Regions from separate parts of the Homo sapiens genome. Here region 2 is linked to region 1. The links come from fine-mapping of genetic effects on gene expression. Tissue or cell type: lymphoblastoid cells. Region 1 holds a variant in brackets; the other region holds the start of a gene. All regions are shown on one strand. Distances are from middle to middle.

What was found. PIP is the estimated chance that this variant, and not a neighbour inherited with it, causes the effect.
Region 2: SLC1A3 starts here. The variant in region 1 is fine-mapped to the expression of SLC1A3 in lymphoblastoid cells (GENCORD, PIP 0.95).

What each region holds. Positions count from the first base shown.
Region 1 is chr5:36,686,389-36,694,587 of GRCh38, reverse strand. SLC1A3 (solute carrier family 1 member 3) reads right to left here. Exons shown (of 10, transcript NM_004172.5): 10 at 6,254-8,199. The region is part of intron 1 of SLC1A3-AS1 (SLC1A3 antisense RNA 1); the gene reads left to right. Among named protein-coding and RNA genes, the nearest start is that of SLC1A3-AS1, 35 kb to the left of the region's middle. RefSeq lists a silencer at 4,294-4,493 and an enhancer at 4,949-5,178. The variant C/A (reference allele first, on the strand shown) is at 3,696.
Region 2 is chr5:36,601,754-36,609,912 of GRCh38, reverse strand. SLC1A3 (solute carrier family 1 member 3) reads right to left here and starts at 3,307. Exons shown (of 10, transcript NM_004172.5): 1 at 3,178-3,307; 2 at 1,309-1,584. The coding sequence starts at 1,489. RefSeq lists an enhancer at 3,101-3,200.

The DNA.
Region 1 (8,199 bases):
GACCCTCTGACCCTCTAAGCATGACTTATTTCTGGTAGGGCCCTCTTCTTGGCTTGCAGACAGCTGCCTTCTCACTGTGTCCTCACATGGCCTTTGCTTGGTGTGTGCTTGTGGAAAGAGATCTCTCTCTCTCTCCTTGTACTTGGAAAGCCACCAATCCTATTGGATTTGGACCCCATCTTTGTGACCTCATTTAACCCTAATTACCTCCTATAAGCCTCATCTCCAAATATAGTCACATTGGGGGTTAGGGCTTTGACATATGAATGTTGGTGAAGGGTGGGAGAACACAATTCAGTCCATAGCACCCTATATTACACAGATATTAAAATGTACCTCCCTGGAGGGAGGGGCTTTATCAACATTGCCCATTACAGTAGGCATCCCATAAATACCTGCTAAATAAATGAAAAGAGGAATTGTGTTTTCTCTGTACATTCTAGTGTTAATGCGGGCACATTTATGACCCCATTATAATAACACCGGAAGCAAGCACCTTTTATCAAGCACGAATATATGTCAGTGACTTCACCTTTCTTTCTGATCTAATCCTCAACAATCCTGGAAATTAGGAATGATTTTCATCATGATAGGAATCAGAGGAGGCAAGGAGAGGTTAAGAAACTTGCCCAAGGTCACACAGCTCATAGGCAAAGCCAGGATTAGCATCCTGCTCTGTCACCTCTGAGGTCTGTTTCTTTTTAGAGTCTAGACCAGTGGTTCTCAAACTTGGGTGTGCATCAGAATCCCCTGGTCAGCTTCTTAAGACAGATGGCTGGGCAGGGCAAGGTGGCATGCACCTGTAGTCCCAGCTACTTGGGAGGCTTTAGCAGGACGATCACTTGAGCCCCAGGACTTCCAGGCTGCAGTGCGCTATGATTGTGCCCGCGAATAACTACTGCACTTCAGCCAGGGCAGCACAGCAAGATCCATCTCTAAAAAACTCCCCCAAACCAAAAAACAGATTGCTGGGGTCTACCCTCTGAGTTTATGATTCAGTAGGTCTAGGGTGGTGTCTGAGAATTTGTATTTCTAAGTTCCCAGGGAATGCTGATACTGGTTGTGGGACCACACTTTGAGAATCAGTGCTGTGGCCACAGAGCATGAGTTCCTTTTTCCTTCAGCCATCGGAACTGTTTCCTGGCTCTCCAGCCTTCCTTGAGCCCCTCAGGGAGGAGTTTGCTGTAAGCGCTCCTCTTTGCACGTTGTCTGGTCCGGGCTGCTCTGGGTCATCGGGGCCTAGAGAAAGGTCTTGGCCGCAGGGTGGCAGCAGCGGCCCAGGTACAGAAAGTTTGTCCCCGCGCTCAGGACAGCTAATAAGCGCACCATCAACTGGGTTCCCACCGGGCCAGGGCCGGCTGGCTCTCCGTCCCCGCTTGGCAGGGCAGGGAGGAGGCCAGTGGGAGGGGGTCTGGCAGAAGGGGAGGTCGCTGGCACACGAAGGGGCGGTTTTGTTCTCTGGTAGACTCTGGGAGAGGAAGCTGGGTGGTCTCCTCAGAACATCGGATTGTGCCCTTCACAAAACGGCCACGCAGCGCGGGGCCGCTGGGAGAGCCCGCGGGACAAAAGGCCTCTGCGGAGGCGAGCAGGGGTTGCTGGGCCGCCCCGGGCGCAGAGGCCCGGGCCCCTCCGTGAAGAAGCCTGGCAGTGTCTCATGATGCCGGTTTCCAGGGGTGACGACCTCCGCAAAGCGTCCCCCCCGGGCAATGTAGGTCTGTGGCCTCCTCGGGGAGTTCCTTCCAGCTCACAGCAGGTCCAGATGGCACCGGGAGCCACTCTCCCTTCCTCCAGCGTCACCCCGTGCCTCTTCCTCCCTACTGAGCCAGTGTTGTTCTGAACATCTTAAGAATCTCCCTGAGTGCCAGGAACTGTGCTGAGAATCTTATATCTAGTTATTATCTATTTAATTCTCATTACACCATAATAAAGAAGGTATTATGATACCCATTTACGATAGGGAAGTTGAAGTTTAACCTATCATATGCTAAGGGCAGTTGACCATTTAACTAAGCGTTTTAACTCTAGCATCCCCTCCAATACACAGACACTTGATATGAAAGTTGATTTGGAGACGGTAGGTTTCATGCAATCCCCACATCTACAGATGAGGATGCTGAGGTGCAGGGAATGGACCAGCCAGGGTCTCTGAACTGCTTAAGAATTCAGGTATAACAAGTGTGGATTCAACCCATCCCCGTGTAGAAGTTTGAGTTCAACCACCACTCTGAAGCGGAAGGCCTTTAAGTTTTAGGAAGCGTAAAGCTATTTTTAGTCTAGCCATGTGAGTTTTCTAACATGCCTGCTGACTTTCTCATGTTTGTTTTCCACTTCTTTAGCTAACAGCTCCTCATGGGCTTAAATGAAAGAAGGCCTCACTGAGGCACTGGAGTGCCAAGGGCAGGGGAATTTGGTTATAGCATTCAGAGGTTTGTGTTGCCGACAAAAATCTTTGCGTGCTGAGTTCTCCCCAGGGCAGGCCAGTCATCAGTTCATTGTGCAGGGCTGAGCTGACTTCCAAATGGTCTTTATTTTCCCCTGTGACAGCTATGTCTGGAAGCTCCTGGCTGGCTGCTTCCAGGACTTATGATCCTCTGAAGCTAAGAGTTGGAAAAGAAATAAAAAAGTTGTCATCTGACACCATCTTCTAGGACACTCACTACCATCTTTACATGATTTTGCATATGTCATTATTGGAAAGAGTTTATGATTTGATTTTGTTCCCCTTGTGCGGTGTCAGTTGGGTCCTGTTTTTTCATATCCTTCAGACTTGGCTTAAAAAGGGGTTTTTTTTGGGAATGATTCCCATTCATGGAGGCTGGAGTTCCCTGAAGAGACTGAAAAATGCCTCATTCTCAACTTTACAGAGACTGGAAAATAATCAACTTTGAATAGCACAATATGAAAAAAAATGGGTGCTTTTCTAATAGGTGCTCCCCAAATGAAAAAAATGTGTCCGTCTTTGGAGAACAATATGTGAATGCCAAAATTTTCAGCCCTGTAATGGATTACAGAAAATATTTTATGTTGGGGCAGTGGGGAGGGTAGAAGTAAGGAGTGAGAGAAGGAAAGAAGAAAATAGGAGAGGGAAGAAAACAAAAGCAGATGTCAGTCTTAAATATCTCAACTATGGATAACTGAGGTATTGCTTAATTTATTCAAGACAGTTTTGTGAAATCCTAAAGGTGATTCATCAAGCTTTTTAACTATGGCCACAAGATTTACAAGCACATAATAAGTGATAATGTCACCAGAACAATTAATAGTAGGAGATGTTAGATCTAAATTGCTTTTTAAAGCATGTTTTTGCTTTCAGAGAAAAATTCAAAATGGGGGTGATTATTTTATAATGAAGATCCCCCCACTCCAAGCAACCTCTTTCACCTATAATATCAGCTTCATTGAAGCAAATACAAATTGTTCTGAGTTCCACATTTCAAGTGTCTAGAGGGTTGCCAGATTAACACATAAAATTACAGGATGCCCCATGCAGTATTTTGCATACTTACACCACCACATTGTTATTTAATACTCATACTAAAACATTGTTATTTACCCGAAATTCAAATTTAACTGTGTGTCTTGTATTTTATCTGACAACCCTACTTATATGTGGAATTCAGCATGCTGTGAATGTTTCAAAATTGAAGGTTGAGACAGCAGTTTTGTGGGCACGATGAGACATGACCTGCAGGAAA[C/A]CGTTACCATGCCACCTTCTGAGTACCTGTCTGTAGCTGCAAAACATGTAAGTGACAGAAGAGGGAGATGAGAATCCGGAAGAGGAGATGGGAGAGAAGGGAGATGAGGCACAAGGGAGACAAAACAGGATACCCAGAAAGGAAGGGGGTCCTCTGGGGAGGCTATTGAAGAAGCAGGGTGAACAGAGGGAAAAGTGACATGGGGGCACTGAGGAATTTTAAACCTGACTTGATGGCTTTCACAGATTGCTCCCTCTCGGCACTGCAGACTTGGAATTCGATGTTACCCAAGTGAGATCTCTAAGAGGAAGTGCCCCAGCTCCCTTTAGAGCTCCCCGCGGAAGCGGCCCAAGGTGAGCTCCGCATTCCCCCTGGTGGCCACTATGAGGCTCGCTCCCCGGACGCCGCCTCGCGGATCTCGTAGATTTCTCATCTCCCGCTTTCCCTCTAGGACGCTGCCCATCACCTCCCTCGCTCTCCCTTCCTTCTTATTGTCAGCGTATTCATTCGGAGCCCTCCCTCGGCGTGACACGTCCCGACTGCTTTGGCCCCAGGACGCGGCCACACAGAGCCGGCCATTGTTGCTCCAGTTCTGGGACCACCCGGGTGGGAGAAGGGGAAGCGCGGCCGCTGCGGAGGCCGCTCGACTGACGGCAGCCTGGGGTCGGGGCCCGCGGCCACCCGGAAGGAGGGCGTGCGCCCGGCCCTGCCCAGCCCGCAGGCAGCCACAGCCCCGCAGCCCCTGCGGCGGGGATCCAGCCTTCCCGCCACGCTTCCTCCAGGCCCGTTCAGCTAACAGAACTCACACTTCTGTTTTCAACACTGTGTAGATGAGTCAAGGATTTTACTTTTTTTTCTATGCCTTTACTTATAGGTATAGTGAGGTAAAGTGAGATTTTTTCTCTTGAAAAGGAGAATTTTGCTTGGGTGGGAAGGGACAGTGGTGGTACCAGGATGAATGTGGATACAGGAGGACATAGACTCCTAACTTCTGAGGGTAGGATTTAAATATTTTGTTAAATGTAATAACTTATAAGAAACATTTTAAAAAATGTCAGCCAGAGGCTGGGTGCAGCGGCTCACTCCTGTAATCCCAGCACTTTGGGAGGCTGAGGCAGAAGGATGGCTTGAGGCCAGGAGTTTGAGACCAGCCTGAGCAACATAGCGAGATCCTGTCTCTACAAAAAATAAAAATAAAAATTAGCCTGGGCGTGGTGGTGTGAGCCTATGGTCCTAGATACTCGGGAGGCTGAGGATCGCTTGAGCCCAGGAGTTCGAGGCTGCAGTGAGCCATAATCACAGAGTGAGACCCTGTATCTTAAAAAAAAAAAAAAAAGCTGTGAACCTGCATATTTTTCATAGTTCCATTTGTGAGCACATGTGTGACTACCACATGTTGGGATCTAAGGCCTGCTTCTCCACCCTCTTTGTCATACTCTGGCTGAGAGGCACTTCCCTTAACCATAAGGGGCTTTCCACAGACCTCCCACAGGCAGATGACCTGCTTCTTATGTCTGCATTGTGGAGGTGGCCAAAACCCAGCGTGGGCTGCAGAAGGGAAGAAAATGGTCCCGGCAGAAGGGAGCACTTCCTAGCAGTGGATTGATTTTATGCGGCACTTCCCAGAACGTTTCACAGGGGGCAAATATTGATCTGCTCAGGGTGGCCAGGCTTGGTTCCCTCAGTTTGTGAGCAGCCTTTCTTTTCCCAAACTGGTCATGTAAATACCACATATGCCTTCACAAAAGTTAGGGTGTATGGTTCAAACATAGCGATTTGTAAATTTTTTTTTTTTTTTAGTCGTAAGATCTGTTAGAGAAACCGATTGAAATTAAGAATTTTACCCCCAGAAAAAGGCAAATGCACAAAACTTTCCCCACAACTTCAAGGGCGATGAACCTATTGAACTCTCATGTGGATGACCTAGGGGTCCATGGATCCAACTTAAGAGCCTTTCCTCTAGGTGGCTGCCACCTGCTGGTAGAGAGGGTCAGATTATAGGCTCCAGACACTACTTCAATCTGGAGATTTCATGATATTGCCTGCGAATTCTTTACTAAAAAGCATGATGAAAAGTAGTCATCCGTAAGCTGTTCTTAATGAATAGAGCACCAGCACAATGGCTGTTTCTGGAAATCCCTTGAGATCTTAGTTAGCTCTTTTCACAAATGGTGGTAATAATCACAGAGATAAATCTACCTAATTTGGAGGTCAGACAGGAAGTTACTTTTTCGGAAGGGCCCATGGTGGTATCACACTTTTCTAATCCCGACATGGAAATGATTCAATTCATCTGAGAAATTTGAATCTGACATGGACAAGGAAGTATGGCCTGCTACAGCAAAGTGCTCCGCTCACCTCCTCCTGTTTCCAGCTCCAGTTCTTGGAGTTGAGCAGGAGAGCATGTCCTTACTTATTTTCTTGTGGCTGGCTCTGCCAAGATTTTACCTTGCTGCATGGGATCCTTCCAGAGACTGCCCTGAGCTTATTGTAATATTTCCATGAATGGAAAATGTATTTTTCTTTGAGGAGAAGAATAACAACAACGTGCAAAGATGTTAATGTAAAACTATTTTTTTCTTTATTGAAAATACATCTACAAAGTAATGCTTCCCAGTCCACACTGAGTGCATGTGTATGCAGAGCCTGTGATGGCTTGGCGAGAGGATGGGCTCCCCACAGGACCTTTCCATAAGAAATGGTTAGTATATTAAAAAACACATATTGTGTAACAGAATTAAGTTGATATGATTAAGTCTTTGCTCTACTAGTGTCTTAAGAGGACAGCCACGTACTTTAACATTTGTAGTGTATTTCCGAAATAGAGCCTCGACATTAAATGGTTACTGCACCACAGCCTAATGTTAACTTTTATGCACAGAATGCTTGGGGTCTATATAAAAATATCTCTAATTGTATATCAGAGGATCTATGTCTAGATTTTTCAGTTTGTTAGCATAATTAAGTCCATTCTTCACCATTTTCAGCCAGAAACTCAAACACAGCTGCTACTGCCTGACAGCTCCCACTCAGCGTCTTTGACTGGATATTCCTTAGGGGGTAAAAATTAATCTCTAAACCTGGGAGCTGCCTTGCCTGAAACTAATGCCCCTGCTGTTTTTTTCTCATAACCTCATTGACAGTGTCTTCATACTGATTCATCTTCTACCATTTCTCTTATGGACACAAACAAAACAAAAGCAAACCCCACTCCAGCTGAAAGTTTTGAATGATTTGATAAGTGGGATTCCAAAACAAATAAATATTTTGTTTCCCTCATTCTAAGGACTTTTGATTAAAGAAAAACACTTTCAAATAAGAAATACCCACTCAACTCATGGACTTCTATTAGAGAGCTCATTCATTTGACTTCTTTCAAATATATAAGTCGTCTTATGTTTTGGTAAGCAGACTTCACGGGGGGAATGATTTTGGACTCGAGAAAAAGTGTTTCAGGTGAAAAAAAAAGCCAGAAAAATGAACCTCTTCTTTTTTATTCTTCCTTAAAGAAGACCTGTACTCTTGGTGTTTTCAAATCCTTTGTTTGTAATGTTGCCTGTGCTCAACTCTTTCCTAGCTCTTTAGTGTTCCACAGTGTGACCACAAGCACCCTTGCTAGCTGCTAGTCTTCTCATCTGTTTTCGAAGTCTATCATCAGTTGAGGAGTGGCAGGAGACATTCTTCCCAGAGTAGGAAAGAAGGGAATACTTCCCCCATTGGGATGAACTGGGCAAAGAGTTTGATGAATAATCCCACTCCTGGAATGGCCTCCTGCCTGGCGACTTGCATAACCTGCACTTTGCTCACAGGACCTGGTGACCACCACACACAGCCATCCTGTCCTTAGTTAGAAATGTTCACTCCCATTGAAGTGTCTTTTCTGAAGGCCTCGTGCTCCATGGATGGTACAGGGTGTTCTGAGGGGAAACAGAGGGCAGGTGCTTTCATGACATCACAGGATGTCTGGGCTGGAAGAGACCATGAAGACTTCTAGGGAAGTCCCTCATTTTATAGATGAGGACACTGAGGCCTAGAGGTGAGATGGGACTTGCTCAAGGCCACATGGAAACTTTGCCTTCTGTCTGTCCTCACAGCTGTGCTAGATGTATATGTGCACCTAGCTACTAATGAAATAGGTATACCAGTCAGAAGAGAAAGGGATAAAATCTTACTGTCCAACTGATAACCGGTTGTAATTCAAGTTGTTAACATTTTGAAACTAAAACTGAATTGTATTCTGAAAGATTTTTAAATTTCAAAAGTTGATTTTAAAATGTTTTTAGCCTACTATTTGTCTCTTTAACTTATATAAAAAAATCACATTTATAGGATTGTGTGCCACATAAACTTGTAAGATCTGATCAACACTATTTGTGATCTTGGTACCTTATTCGGTAAGACTAACATGAAATGATTTAAAAATTTCAATTGTGGGATGAAAATTGTACACTTTGGCCACCCAAAATCCTCCCTTGTGTTTTGGAGGACTATTTTCCAGTCTTAT
Region 2 (8,159 bases), 85 kb after region 1:
AATGACTTTGATTCAGAGTGACAAATGAGGCAAGCAGACTGTATTTTGCATTGACTTCCAGGACAATGATGTGGGACTGAAATATTTCACCCAGGAATATATTCAAGCCTGGAAACCTACTGTGGAAAGCCATTACTTCTCTGGGTCAGTTAGGACATGTTCTCTTTGAATATCTCTAAATTAATTGAACCATCATTAATCACCAGTGATTACTAATGGAAGACAATGATGTTAAAATGGGATGTATCTAAAATCTTGTGACAAACTCTCCTGCTATACTTCATTTGTCTACAATTTAAGAATTCAATTTTCTTGAAAAAAGTTATATTTACACACTACAGAATTTTCTTAATCTTTATTAAATCATTACCTCTTTAAAGTTGATGGAAATCTTGGCAAACTCCAAAGTAGAGATTAAAACGGTACTGAATGCCTCTTTTTTGGTGGCAAATTGGTAGGTTAAGTTGGAATATTTTTACAACCTGGCATTGGCGTATATGTTTGTCAATCTAAGGATTTCTGTATTGGTTTGGTCAAAAATTCCAAATAAGTAGGTTTTTTCAGCTATATTTTAAAGTAGGATCAATGCCACCCATAAGTAATAAACTATAACTTTTAAGATCAATAAACAAAACAAAACAATAATATTTTATTAGTACAGATTGCTGTCAACCCTGCTAAATTAGTAAGAGATGGAAATGATTCAAAAAAAGGTATAGCTGGTTATGGCAGGCTCTGCAAAGCAATGAATGAAAGAGATCTGTGTTAACATTTTCCCCAATCTACCTTTCCCAGTTGCTGGGTGAGAGAGTGCAAACACATAAAATATTCGGTCTCTGTGCCTAAGCGTTGATACTCAGCTTCAAGTCAGCACCAGTTAGAATATAATTACTATTTGGAACCAACATGTCATTTTAGGTGTACTAATTGTATAAATTAGTTTTAAGTGCAACTGACATTGTATATAATTACATTTTGGCCAAATCTAGCATGCTTGCTTTGTCATGCCTAATGATTAAATGATCACTTCCTTATCCTTACATGAAATGGGAAAATATTTTATTTATTTTTCTTCCTCACACAATTGATTTGCATAATGCCTAATGATGCCTAATGATGTGTTTACTATATATTGCTCCAAACAAGCCAAAACAGTCATTTTTATGGAGAAAAATCATCAAGTTCAGAGGAAAGCCTAGGCTACCATTTTGATACCTACAACTAGTTCATCTGATAATATTCCCCGGGCAGCCAGATGCCCCAGAGAAACAAGATACAGGTTTTTTTGTTTTTAATCAAATGACTCACCCACAATGACAGCGGTGACTGTGAGCAGCACAAAAGCATTCCGAAACAGGTAACTTTTAACATCCTCCTTTGTAATGTTCTGCACTTTCTTCTTGGCCAAAAGTGTGCGTTTACGGACTCCCTGCTGGAATCTCTCCATCCTGCCCCCCATCTTGGGCTCTTCTCCATTGCTTTTAGTCATATTTTACTTTTCTAGGAGGGTCTCTTCTTTGCACTTCAGTGTCTGGGAATCACCCACAGAAAGCCAAACCTCCTCTTTGGTATTAGAAAACACAACTAGAATGGGAGAAAAAGAGACATGAGTTATAGCCTCCAGGGGTGAGAAATCAGTGCTGCTCCACACCAGGCAAGCTCTTGGCAAATTGCATAATCTCAGCAGGAATCAAGGACTGGAGAGCCACAATACCAGACCTCAAGGTTGCAGTGTGCATATTTTAGTGGACCACGTGTGAGAAATGTGCATAAATTCGGAATATATTCTATTTTCTTTTTAAAAATCCGTCCTTCCCCTTCCAATGAGGCTATAAAAGGGTTCTTCAGAGCTAGATCTGACTGAGAACCCCTATTCCCACCCTCCCCCGCAGAACCCAGCTGATGCCTTGCACAACGTACACAATCAGTAAATGTCCAATTGAACTGAATGCACAGAAAGTATTCAATCATTACTTGACAAATTATGCTGTATACATGGTTGAAAGCATAACCAGGTCAATAAAAATAATTAAGATACTGATAGGTGGGAGTTGTCTCTGTTACATGCAGTAAAGTAACCAGCTATTTTCTTCATTAAGAAAAAAATATAATAATATCTACTAGTAAATATGGTCATAAAAAGAACACAAGTGCCCACAGTACATGGGAAATACATGTGACTATTTTACAGGGTAATTTTTTCATTTTTTTTCCATGAAATAAGCAAAGTGCTCTGGGCACATCTATAAATCATCTGAAATCACAATTCAGCTTCGTTTATCACAAGTAGAAGTATGAAGTAGTGTTTTTCTTTGTGACACACATGCTGGAATCTTCCGAGGAAACTATCGCTGACTTTTTAGCGTTTTAAAATTTAGGATTTCTAGAACAGATGAGATGAAACCAATTTTCATTCCAAACATTACAGCTTGTGGTTTCTGGTTTCTTTAAAGCACTCACGCTATTTAACTACATTTCAGTAAATCTCTTTCCTGGTGGAAATCAGCTGTTCTGAAAAATCAAGGGATTCCTCCTGGTGCTTTACAGGAGCTCTAATCCATAGCCCTTCCCATAATCAATCCGAGTGAAAACCAGCCGTACCATGGATGTGTGTCGCTGCCAACGCAAGCAGCCAGCGTGTGCGCCTGTGGGGGAGGTAACTGGAAACCAAAGGACTCCTCGCAAATGACTTCTCGCAATCCCAGTGCAGGAAAAAAAAAGACTTGTCTTAACAGTTTGCCTTTTAAATAAAATTGCAAGTTGGGGTCAGTGATACTAAGACTTCTAATTTGTTTAAGACTTCACACTGGATTAAATGCTTAGGGAGAAGTGAAGACCGGGAAATAGGAGAGACCAGATTTTTTTTTTTTTTAAACTAATAGCTCTGATTCCTCTTACCAGTCACTTTTAAGCAGATCCGCTCAACCTTGATCCTTTTCTAGATCTCGCGCCACAATCTGCCCCCAATCCACCCCGAATGACTCAACTCCGAATTAACAGCGGACCCGGCATAAACAGACACCACACTCTCACGACGTGAGATGACTAACAAGGACTTTATCTACCAAAATGGCTAGCCTTGATTCAGGCTACTCCTCTGCTTGGAAGGCAAAATACATCGGCAGAGAAGTGAAAGGAGAAATTAAACCCAGCAGGAACACAGAATGTGACACTTACCTTTTCTGATTTTGTAAGGGGTGGAAGATATCAAGCAGTAACGAGGTGAATTCCCCAGCAGGTACAACGGAGCAACAATCCGCAGCGCGCGTAAGCAGGCAGGCTAGCCCTGACAGTGTGCATGTGCTCTGAAACTGCAAGTTACTATCAGGGCAACTTAAGAAAAGGGGAGGAGTCTGTGCCCGGGAAAGGAGGAGTGGGGAATGGAAACCGCACAGGGAGGAGGGGGAAACCCCGAGGTTTCTGGAATATTGATTAATCTTGGCACACCAGAAGCAGGCTTGCTGGCTTTGTTTTGCTCCTTAGACCACTTTCACGCTTTGTCAGTTCACTGTCATTAGAAATGCAAAACCGGGACTAGGAAGAATTGAAAAATAAAGCGCACACAATCGGAAAGCTGAAAGTCTTGATTAGAACGTTTCAAAGACTTTTCTAAGGCTAAATTTAATTACCTCACATTATTGCATGTTTCCTCCCTTTCAGGGAAGACGAGGGTGTGCTCTTTAGCCTGGTTGTACAACTGTTACGAGAAAGTTCCTTTTTCGAATCGGGGAATTAACTGACGTTTCTTGGGAAGACACTGAATGCAGACAAGTATGTAGAAAAAAAATAATGCTTACTACGATTCTCTAAATTTGTCTAAAGTTAGGGACATGCCTCTATTTCAGCAGTTGAAACTTCAAAACTTCATTTTAACAAACCTAATTTAGCTCACACTGCCTGTGTTGCAAAGACGGAAAAGGTAGCAAATGTAAAGAGACTGGAATTTTTGCCAAACTAGAAAATGAAAAGCATTTTAAGACCAAGAGTGCAAAGTACACTTGAGATTTGGTGATTCAAAAGATAGGTTGCTGTTCAGATGTCTCCATTTTAAAGGATGCTAAATGTTCTCCCTACCACACACAACTTTTTTAGAGCTAAAAAATTCTCATTGCCTTGAGAAGGTAACTTGAGCTTCTAGTCCACTTTTCTTAAAAGAAAAATAAATTGTGAAAATAGATATTAGAAAATAAAAAAAAATTTTTTTGAGGTGACTTATTCCCAAAACTTAAATCTTCTTTAGAAGGAAGAAAATGGTTCATTAGAAACAAAAATTTATACCAGAATCACAGCCTGAGGTTTGGATTCTTGTTCACTGAATTTAATATTCCCCATGCAAAATATGCTCAATTCTTGGTCTATTATTCAACAAGAAAGTATGTCTTTTTTCCCCTCAATACAAATCTCTGGAGATCATAAAGAAATATCTCCTTTCACCCTCAACTGTATGTCCTTTTAAACAGCTACTGGTTGGAAAGCAATGGTGAATCATGTCAATGCTTTAAAATTACAAATCAGCAGCAATTATAACAGCTTTCTAACATGCTATCATTTTAAGAACTTACTGAAAGTACATGCTTTTGACATTCCCAGCCCTCAGTGACCCTTCCCTTCCTCTGATCTCCTAGGTCACTGAGCATCTATACTACATTGTTTAGCACTTAATTATACCATGTTTTGTACTGCATCCTTCTTTTTAAGCTCATGTTAAGTTTTGGTTTCTCAACTAAATTATAAGTTCTTTGAGGGCAAGAACTTGTCTTATACCTAATACAGAGTCAATATTAAGTAACTCTTTTTAAGTGGGTGGAATAATATTAGGATGTGAAACAAAACGCTTTTCAATCTTTTGTGTTAAAACACAATTACTAGTTTTTACATTGGTGCCTCTGGTTTAGGTGCATGGAGCCATTTCTCAATGCCATGACTACTTTTAAAAGCATTTATTTACTATACCAGGTCCTATCTGAGCCATGAGTTTAGGATTAATTTGCACACCCCCCCCCCCCACCGCTTTTTTTTTTTGGTGGAAATGACTTTGACTTGTATTGCAAGGGAACTCGAAAGAGAAATCTGATTTTAAATGGGGTTTCAAGCCCAGTGGCATTTCCATTTTTTGTTTTTATTTTTGTTAATAGGCAAGAAAAAGGGCTGGAAAACCACACTTTGGTTAGCATAGAGATGGGAAGACCCTGGTGCCCTTTCTTTTTCACTTTTTTTTTCCTCTCTAATCCCTAAAGCTTGGTTAAAAACCATTTCATTATTTCAGTTTGTGTAGACATTATGGGAGTCTGGTATTCTGTTGAGAAGGGAAGTAATTCACCACTGAAAGTTTTGTTGGCTGTAATAAAACCTAATGAGAAAATGAGATGCAAAGAGTCTCAGTTCAGAGTTCATCCAATTTTAGTCTGGAGGGAAACATTGGGAATTACTTCTTTAAGCACCACTTTCTCTTTCTGGAAAGCTATAGCAAAAGTCATGCCTGGGGGCCTCCTGGGTTTCCTCAACGCGTATTTCTACCTTTTCCCCTCTACTTTATAGTTAAGTCCCTTGAGCTTTAAAACATCTTTTTTTTTCCTTCTAGAAACACTAAATAAATGAAAGATCAAGAAATTATGAACAAGTCTCTGTATGCTGTATTTCATTTAAAGCTACTCAGGGTGGGAGACACAGAAGCTGGGGGATCATATTAATGTTAGTATTATCAAATGAAAAAAACACAAACACCAGCAGCAAATGCTGTTCCTGCTGAAAAAATCTGTCAAGATCTTTCTGTGAACATTGTGTGATGAAGTATGTTATCAGTAAATTCTTTCTTTGGGAAAAAATGTCAGTATAACAAGAAATAACCAAATCCAACCTGTCCTTAAAGGGAGCATTTATTGGTTTGAAGAACAAGAGATTACGGTAATAAGCACGTGCTGATCTTAGCATGGTACAGGCCAGTCAAACTTCACCATTCAAAATTAGGAAATTTTGGTTAATTGGATTTTTTTTTGAGCAACAAAATGGATTAGAAAACCTTTTAATCTTTTTTCAATATTTTCCAAGTTGATTTTTAATTTAATGATGGTTTTAAAATCATTCCTTGTTTAAATAGCTTGCATTTTAGGATCATCATGAATGTCAATTCTCCTCCTAGAATTTGGAAATTGTAGAATGCTAAGACAATGAACAGGACCTGACTTAACCCCAGAGTGTAACAGTGGATGTGTTAGAGGCAGTAGGTGTAGAAGAACTTGTGGTAGTTGTCTTCCATTTTGTTTTGATTTTTTTTTCTTCTTAAATATGAATGTAAAAAGCAGAACAACAAAAAAACCTGTGGTGAAGTCTGGTTAGTTGAATTTTTAAATAACTAGGTTTTATTTTAAAGTTATAGTCATATGAAACCTAAAAACATCCAACTACAGAGAGGTGAACTAAAATTAACTTTATCACATTCATTTATTCTTTCAACAAACATTGAGCAACCACTGTGTTCCAAATACCAGTTTCTTTCCTCAAGGAGTCCATAAACGCATCGTAATTATTAAGCAGTGGGCCAGGACAGGGCCCAACAGAAGGTTATGAGATCGCTGTGTGCTGAGGCCTATTTACCAGTTAGTATGTCAAAAAGACTGGTAGCAACTTAAGAGAAGGGGCTGTGCCTGGATCCACATTGTGTACACTGTTTCTAGCAGGTGCCTGCCCATAGCAGCCATCGTGTGGCATGGCAGGGAGCCAGTAGTGGTTCCTGCTGGAGAACAGGCCAGTAGGGGCCGAATTTACAACTTGAACTCCACTCCTAGTCAATGGGGAGCCAGCCACAGGATTTAAGCAGGGAAGTAATTTTCGTTTTAGGTAAAATGCAAAGCCTTGAAGTGACTAAGACTTGGGTTAGGAAGTCAAGGGGCAGGAGGAGCATTTACAAACTAGGTGAGTTCACATTCACACTGAAAAATACTGACCATTTGAGAATATCAAGGCCCTTGAAGGGGTCGGCTGACACTGAGCCAAGGCTGCCTCCTGTAGGTGGAGTGTGCACTCTCCAGCCCACTTGTCCTGCTCACTTCACTCAAGTTAGTTATCAGCATGTGGCTCTAGCAAGTTCTTCTGTTTTGACCTCTGATGGGGTTTCAGAAGAGGACTGAGCAAGGGCAGAAGCCTAGGGAACACCAACACAAAGGTGAAGACCAGCAAGAGGAACCCCCCCAAATAGATTCCCACGTGGCAAGAAATTACACCAACTGTTATTTTTCTCACAAGTGATCCAACAGGTGGACATAATGATGCCTTAAAAAACAACATGTTTTCTCCATTCTAAAGCTAAAGAGGGTCTGCTTTTTAATGAAGGCTTCACACATGTTATTGTTATCAATTATTATTTATATTGAAAAGTGACATTTTCCCCAGTTGCTCAACATGAGTCAAGACTTTGTAGAACCAAGAATATCCGTTTAGCTGGAAAAGATTATGTAGGTTGATTGGAATTGAAGCCTTCAGCAGACATGTTTACAGGGCTTTATAGTTTTTTAAGTACTTCTACACACATTATCTAATTTAATCTTCGTGATAATACTTTGAGGTCTATTCTACTCTATTATTACTGGTCCTGTAGACCCAGATGTTGGAGATCAGTAGGGATTGAGTAATATGCTGGGGATCATAGTCAGCGCTAAGACAAGAGTTCTTCATGTTGATTTCTCATCTTTTCCCAAAAGAAGCCCCCAGGAGTTTTTTTAAAGACAGATAGAAAAGAAAGGAAAGAACATTAAAAGGAAGGCCTACAATCTGTTATTTCTTCTGGGGAGTCAACTCTAATCTCCTCCCACTCCCCAAATCCAACGGGCTTGGTTGCCTTTCCTATGTGCTCCCAAGGCCCCCTGGGTTTAAATCTCCAGAGTCATTACCACTTTGTGCTGCAATTCTCCCTGTCTAGACTGCAGGGTCTTTGAGGGCAGGGCCTGTATGGATAACTACTGCATACTTAGGAACCAGAACGGAAGGTGCTCAGAAAAGAGTTGCTGCACCAATAAACAGATGCAACACAGTCACAAACACAAGAGGGTTCATCAGTCCATTTCCAATTCTAAGACTTGGAGAAAGGAAGTCAGTAAACATCAAACTTAAAAGGAAAAAAAAAAGCCAATGAGTTCCTTCTTCAATCATTACAATGTAAAATA